2 linked regions of the Homo sapiens genome follow. The protein of the gene in region 1 purifies or fractionates together with the protein of each later gene. This does not show direct contact. Each region holds a gene or a part of one and is shown in the gene's direction. Other genes may lie near its edges. The genes, in order: CBLL1 and ACSL4.

The links.
Region 2: the proteins of CBLL1 (region 1) and ACSL4 purify together in Homo sapiens (affinity purification with western blotting; one study listed by BioGRID). This does not show direct contact.

What each region holds. Positions count from the first base shown.
Region 1 is NC_000007.14:107,747,099-107,750,922, forward strand, and holds part of CBLL1 (E3 ubiquitin-protein ligase Hakai), read left to right. Parts: exon of another isoform or gene 1-398; intron 399-1,781; coding exon 1,782-1,949; intron 1,950-3,824. UniProt on the Homo sapiens protein: E3 ubiquitin-protein ligase that mediates ubiquitination of several tyrosine-phosphorylated Src substrates, including CDH1, CTTN and DOK1. Targets CDH1 for endocytosis and degradation.
Region 2 is NC_000023.11:109,684,536-109,688,359, reverse strand, and holds part of ACSL4 (long-chain-fatty-acid--CoA ligase 4), read left to right. Parts: intron 1-2,915; exon of another isoform or gene 2,916-2,933; intron 2,934-3,824. UniProt on the Homo sapiens protein: Catalyzes the conversion of long-chain fatty acids to their active form acyl-CoA for both synthesis of cellular lipids, and degradation via beta-oxidation. Preferentially activates arachidonate and eicosapentaenoate as substrates.

The sequences.
Region 1 (3,824 bases):
TCTGATTCTTAATTTAAAAACAACAAAAAGCAAAAAAGTCCCAAAGAAACCCAGAATGTTATCATTATTAAATGCTGTACCTCATGAACTTGAATCTGTGAAGCAGAGTGGGAAGGGCCAGCCAGCTCTTGAAAGTGGTAGACTATGCAAGCAACAGTAGAGACCTCAAGTGTTCAGGATGGTGTGAAAAGGACTTGTAATGAAGTGTTGGTATTTTCATTATTCACAAAGGTAAAACGATTAAACCATTTTGATATTTGAATATTTAATATTTGAGGGACAGCATTGAACTGATTATATGTCTACAACGACTTGCTTTTTAGTTCATTGGAATGTCAGGAATACTTTTTGAGCAAGGAAAAAAGTCATTCATATTTCTTTTGGCCAATGCATTGCTTGTAAGTACTTTTACATACATAAGCAACTACAATGAAAACAGATCAAATACATTAATCAGCTTGTGAGTCTATTTAATGAAGTGTTGAAAGCTGATCAAGTTGGGTTAACCCTAACTCAAGATTCTAGCTAACCATGTAATTCCACCCCTCTTTGTTTTAGGATTAGCTGTTATAAGAGTAGTAAGTAGATTAAAATAATCGTTATGGACCCATTTTTAATTTTGTTTGGTATTTTGTTCAGAAAAAGTGCAAATGAATGTGAACTTATTGTGTGTCTGTAATCCTAGTAGCCTTGGAGGCCATTGGTACTAGCTTACTACTTCCAAATTTGGCTTTGCTGAATTTAATGTGGATGGTTTGGCTATCAGTCTTGACTGTAATATTTCCTGCAGGGGCAGTTATACAACCTTGTTCAATAACTTGTCATGTTTAAAACACTACAAATTAAAAAATACGTTATTTGTATTTCCTATTTTAAGCATTTTCCTTCTTTAGTAGGTCAAGTTAAATATTTTCTGTATTATATATTTTCATCTACTTGAAAAAAGGTAACTCTTAAGCTTTAGATGGAGTCAGTTCTATGAAATAATACTCCTGTTACTCATGGGACAAGAATTAATTTATTCTATAGACAATAACAAGCAAAGACTCCAGGGACTAGAAAGTGACACTTGTTTAGACCTAGTTGTAGTATAGGAACTTTGCATCCTCTTAAATTATAATTTTCCATTACAGTGCTGACTAAGAACTCAGTCACATGTTATAGCACAAATACATTATTGCATGTTTTTACTACTAAATGGTATAATGATTTTTACTATATTTCTGAATGATTTTTAGAATAATTATTTTGCGCTTAAGGAATAATCACATTTCTTAACTTCATTTTCAAACGCATTGTTTAATTTTGCCTTCATCAGTATTAGTAAGTTCAGTTTACTAAATTTATTTTCTGCTTTGCATGCTTGATGATCAGACATGGAGACAGGGATGGTTTTCGTTCTTTTTCTCCTTCTTACTCTTTTTCTTTTAAAAAATTCTCTTGTAGTTCAAGACAATGGTTCTTGGGTTCATTAATGGTTTCATGTTTCTGTAAACTTCTCTGGAATTATATGAAAAATTTTATTCACTTTTCTAGGGAGAGGTCCTATAACTTTTATCAATTTCTTAAAGGATTCTGTATCTCAAAAGGGGTTAAAAAGCATTGCCTTAAGTGTTGATCCAAAATAAATAAAATTAGCAGTTAAACTTAATGTAATATTGAAAATCAGAACCCAGATCTTTAACCTTGATAATGTTAGGTATGGTGTTTTAATACCTGTGGCAGAATAATCTTTAAAAAGAAAAACTAAAAGAAATTACAACTTTTTTTTCCTAACACAGACAATGAGTTACAAGGCACTAATAGTTCTGGATCCTTGGGTGGTCTTGATGTTCGCAGACGAATTCCTATAAAGCTCATCTCCAAACAAGCAAACAAAGCGAAACCTGCACCGCGAACTCAAAGAACTATAAACAGGATGCCTGCAAAGGCTCCACCTGGTGATGAAGGTAATTTGTTTAACTAATAGGTCCAACACTCTTTCTGTTTTATCTGATTGCTTCGGACAGTCTGTGTGATCTTATAGCTACCTCTTTTTGTCTTACATATTCTATTCATTCTTCAACCTTCTTGTTTGACTTCTCATTGTAGCACATTGTATTTTTATTTTCCTTTATAAATATTTTTTGATTTGGTTCCTTTTGTTGTTGAAAGCAATACTGCCCATTGTTCAGTAATCTCAACAGTATTGCAGAAAGCATAACATTAAAAGTAAAATCCTTCTATCCAAAGATAATCCCTGTTGACTTTTTTATACAAAAGTATTAATTTTTTATGTGTAGTTGCCATTTTTTCATGTAATATGCATTTGAGATTTTTTTCTTATCAGTACTTACAGATGTACCTCATTAAAAAAATAGGTTTGGGTATTTATAGATATACCATAATTTATTTAACAGTTTTTCCAGTTTTTTCTGTTACAAAAAACATTGCACCAAATATTCTTGGACATACAGTTTAGTATGTATACTTTGTAGAATTTGTACTTTGCACAGATTTGGCCTTTTTTTTTTTTTTAAGAGCAATTTGACAGTACTTGTCAAACTCTAAAATCCACAGTATCTGTCAAGTTTTAAAATATCCAAATTTGTAGTTTTAAAGGCTTTGGAATTAAAAAAATAATAATAAAAAGGTATGTTAGTTTTTACTGCCATACACCAATACTGAGTACTAGAAACCTTTTAAAATTTTTGTTTTGATGTAAATTTATTTTAATTATGAAAGAGTGTATATTTTTTCATAGCATTGACCATTCTTGTTTAGATCCTTTCTTCTGAGTTCTTTGTAAATTAATAGGGTTTTTGTTATATGTTATGTATGTGCGTGTGTGTATATATATTTTTTTGTTTGTTTGTTTGTTTGTTTTTGTTTTTTTGAGACTGAGTCTTACTCTGTTGCCTGGGCTGGAATGCAGTGGTGGGATCATGGCTTGATATTCCAGGCTCAAGTGATCTTTCCACCTCAGTCTCCTGAGGAGCTGGGACTACAGGTGCACCCCACCTGCCTGGCTAATTTTTTATATTTAATTTTTGTAGTCATGGGGTCTTGCTATGTTGCCCAGGCTGGTTTTGAACTCCTGGACTCAACAGTCCTCTTGCCTTAGCCTCCCAAGGTGCTGGGATTACAGGCGTGAGCCACTGTGCCTGGCCTATATTGTATATATTCTTCATTTGTCTTTTGAATTTTGTATACAAAATATTTATTGCAGAGAATCTTTTTTTTTTTGAGACAGAGTCTTGCGCTGTCACCCAGGCTGGAGTGCAGTGGCGGGATCTCGGCTCACTGCAAGCTCTGCCTCCCAGGTTCATGCCATTCTCCTGCCTCAGCCTCCCGAGTAGCTGGGACTACAGGTGCCCGCCACCACGCCCAGCTAATTTTTGTATTTTTAGTGGAGACGGGGTTTCACTGTGTTAGCCAGGATGGTCTCGATCTCCTGACCTCATGATCCGCCCGCATCGGCCTCCCAAAGTGCTGGGATTATAGTTATTGCAGAGAATCTTGAAGATTCTATATAGTCAGATATCCGGTCTTTGCTTTTATGACTTCTGGGTTTTGTGACATTATTTGAAAGGCCTTCCCCTATTTCACCAGTATAAAAGAGTTTTTCCATCTTACCCTTGATTACAGGTTAGCAAACTATGTCTGTGGGCCAAATGTAGCCCTGTTTTTATAAACAATTTTATTGGAACACAGCTATGCTCATTCATTTAAGTATTATCTATGGGGGCTTTCACACTATAATGGTAGAGTTGAGTAATTGTGATTGAGACCATATGGTCCACAAAGCGTAAATATTTACTATTTAGCATTTCACAGAAAAAGTT
Region 2 (3,824 bases), on another chromosome or scaffold:
AGAGTAGCACTTCCGTGTCCTTATAAAGACAGGGTGTAATGCATAAATGAAGGGGTTGGCCTCAGCTTGGAGCATCAACAGTTCATCCATAGTCACAGGAGAGAAAACAGCATGTGGCCACAGATTTGATTAGGTGGGTAGATGTAGCAGTGAGAGTCTGTGGAAATTATCTTTGGATTGTTGCTGTTTTGTCTGCAAAATAGGTCAGCTGCTGAGAATAAGTCTGGATGAGGAATGTTGGTGGTCTGAAGAGAGTAAAGTATGAAATCCAGAGGAGTGGGCCAGTGAGTGGACTAGTGCGGTGTGGTCTCTCTGCATCAGGGAGAGTCCATTTGAGGTAGCAATCACAAGTTTAAAGTGAGACACTCAACACAGTCATGTGTTTCTCACAGCAAATTCAGCTGCATAGGTACAGGTACAGATTAGGTGGAGAATTGGATAGGATAGAACCAGGCTGTGGTTGAGATGATTAAGTACAACCAAGTGAGACAACCAAGAGGGACTGAGTATGATTGCCTATGGAATTTAAGAGGAAGAAGACAAAGGTTTCTCACAAAAGCACTATAAAGTAGGTAATATAAGCAGTATTCCTGTTTTACAGATGAAGCCACTAATATAGAGCTTTCTTTTTTAAATCATACTTTAAATTCTGGGATACATGTGCAGAACGTGCAGGTTTGTTACATAGGTATACACGTGCCATGGTGGTTTGCTGCACCCATCAACCCATCATCTACGTTAGGTATTTCTCCTAATGCTATCCCTCCCCTAGCCCTCCATCCCCTGACAGGCCCCTGTGTGTGATGTAACCCTCCCTGTGTCCATGTTTTCTCATTGTTCAACTTCCACTTGTGAGTAAGAACATGCAGTGTTAAGTTTTCTGTTCCTGTGTTAGTTTGCTGAGAATGATGGTTTCCAGCTTCATCCATCTCCATGCAAAGGACATGAACTCATTGTTTTTTATGGCTGCATAGAACCACATTTTAAACCCAGATCTGTTAGCCTAGAAAATTTTTGTTGTTTCTCTTATGAGACATTATATTTTGCCTAATGATGGGTACGATGCTCAGCATCATACCCTTACCACCAACTCTTCTTTTTTTGAAGTGAAATGAAATGTTTAAATCTTTTTTGAAATGAATTTATCAATAGACTGAGTATAACCCCTGACAAGGAAGTATTATAGTTTAAGATGATAGGCAAAACTGGGCAGAGGCTGGCTAGTGTACTTGAAAGAGCACTGGGTGCTCGATTTGTGCTCTGCCATTCATTTGCTTCTCTGTAAGATGAGGGCTCAGACAATATCAGTGGTTCAAATATTCAGCTGAACTGGAAGTTCCAAGGAGTCCCTTCAGGGGCTGTCATAGCCTCCTCTACCAGAGCAGCTATGCTTTTTGCTTTCATCTACGCTTGTGTTTTTATATCTATATAAGATTTTATTCAAATGGATGACCCATGACCCCCTCACTACCTGCAGAAAGAATTTGAAAACCTCTAGACTAAATGATCTCTCTGGTTTCTTCTCACCTGAATGTTCTTTGAGCCTTGCCTACTGTGTGTGTGTGTGTGTGTGTGTGTGTGTGCATGCGTGTGTGTGTGTCTGTACTAAGCACTATGAGGATTACCTAGAAAGCATTTCTCTTTCTCTAAGACTTAAGGCAAATATGTATAAAAGATTAAATTTATGTAACATCAATAACTAAAAAACATACAATGCATTTTAAATCCAACTAAAGTACAGGCTCTTCAAAAGCTATTTTCTGTTTCTTTATATATTTTCAGCCTTAAGCCTGAAGATTTCTCAATTGAGGGTAAGGTGGTACTCACCCCTTAGGGGCATTTTATAAATCTGAAGACATGCTTTTATGTCTGCTAATATTGTCTCTGAGAATGTATGTATTGAAACAAGTATTTTGTTAAATTTTAAATTAGTTTCTTTATGGTACTCTTTTATATTACCAGTAAGAAATCATTTTTTAAAATGGTGTGTTGGTAGATTATGACTATCCTTTGATGTTGATGAAGAGGTATCACAAAATATTTGTCATAAGAAAGAGGTACTGGGTTTGATATGGTTGAGAACTACTGGTCCGTGTTCTATACTGTGGTACCCAGAAGTTTGGAAGTGATGGTAGTATAATCATGTATCAGATTGAGTGGTAGATATTGCTAATGATGTGTGAAATTAGAAAAAGTAAAGATTGTTCTGGACTTGGGTAGCCATGAAATCTTCAGTGGGAGGAGAGGATTGTTAGAGGGGATCTTACATTCAGCATTATGATAAACCCTTGACATGACATACCTTATCTTGAAGAAATGAATGACCAGACTTGTCCGAGAGACTAAGAAGGTACTTTCCAAGTAGGGTAAGTCATAGAATTTAAAGCTGGAAAGGCCCTAAGAATCACCTAGGCCAGACATTTTTAGTTCAGGGTTGTTGCCCTTTGAAGTTCATGGATGGATTTCAAGGAACTTGTGAATCACTTGACATTGTGTGTATCATTTAGCATGTCTTTCTGAGGGGAATTGGGTTCCTCGTTCTCATTCTCAAAAAGGCCCATCATCTCTAAGAGGTTAAGGCCTGCTGATCTAGTGTGGTCCCAGACTGAGGTAGATGGTTTGCTCAAGGTTACACAGCCAGTTAGGGGCAGAGATGAGGATTGACACCCAGTGACTTCCAGTTTCTTTCTCATTTCACTGTACTCAACTAAATTACATGAACAAAGGCACAGGCAGGATTAAGCTACCATTTTATATTAGATGGTATAAAAACAATCAACTAGCCTGGGGTCAATTGAATTAAGTCTGTCAGTCTGTTTCTACAAAAGTTGCAGAAGGATGGGCTTCAGTTTGTCTCTTCAAAGTGAACTAATATTTTGATTTTTCTGGTTGAAATATGCTACAACTCACCGAAGTAGCTTTCTCAGTTGAAGGTAAGCTCCTTAAAAAATGTTCCTATTCTTGGGCCGGGTGTGGTGGCCCCCGCCTGTAATCCCAGCACTTTGGGAGGCCATTGAGGGCAGATAGCTTGAGTCCAGGATTTTGAGAACAGCCTGAGCAACAATGGCAAAACCCCGTCTCTACAAAAAATGGAAAAAAACTAGCCAGGCATGGTGATGCACATCTGTGTTCCCAGCTACTCGGGAGGCTGAGGTGGGAGGATCTTTTGAGTCCGGGAGGCAGAGGTTGCAGTGAGCTGAGATCATGCCACTGCACTCTGGCCCGTGTGACAAAGTGAGACCTTGTCTCAAAAAAAAAAAAAAAAAAAAAAGAAAGAAAAGAAATATTACTATTCTTGAGCCTGTTTCTGCGGTTTCTTTCCAATGGCACTGTTTTTCTAACCTGCAGCAGCCCCCAGCTTTCCACATAATCCAATCAAAATTACTTTGCCTGATTTGTTAGATTTTGTAACTACCGTAGCGTATTTAGTCAAGCGTATTTAGCGTATTTAGTGTATGCTGTGCCCCAGTCAGACTAGTGTCCTTGCTATTGGTACTTCCTATTCTCCCAAAGTCCTTTCATTCCCACCTTCGTATCTTTTTTCATATGGTCCCTGAGCCTGGAATACCTTCCATTCCTCTTTCATTTCTAGATGCCCAACATAAGGTCCAGCTTAAATCTAATCTCCACAAAGCCTCTCCTAGTTACTCTTGGCCATTTTGCACTTCCTCTGAACTCCTTTTGCATTTATTGCTTATACTACTGCCTACACTGCACATGGTAGTTATGTATTAGTTATGTATTACCACAAGGCTTTTCAGTGGAAATGCTTTAGTGGTCACCTTGGGAGTTGGGATTCCGGGAATTCTGGGGCAGGACTCTGG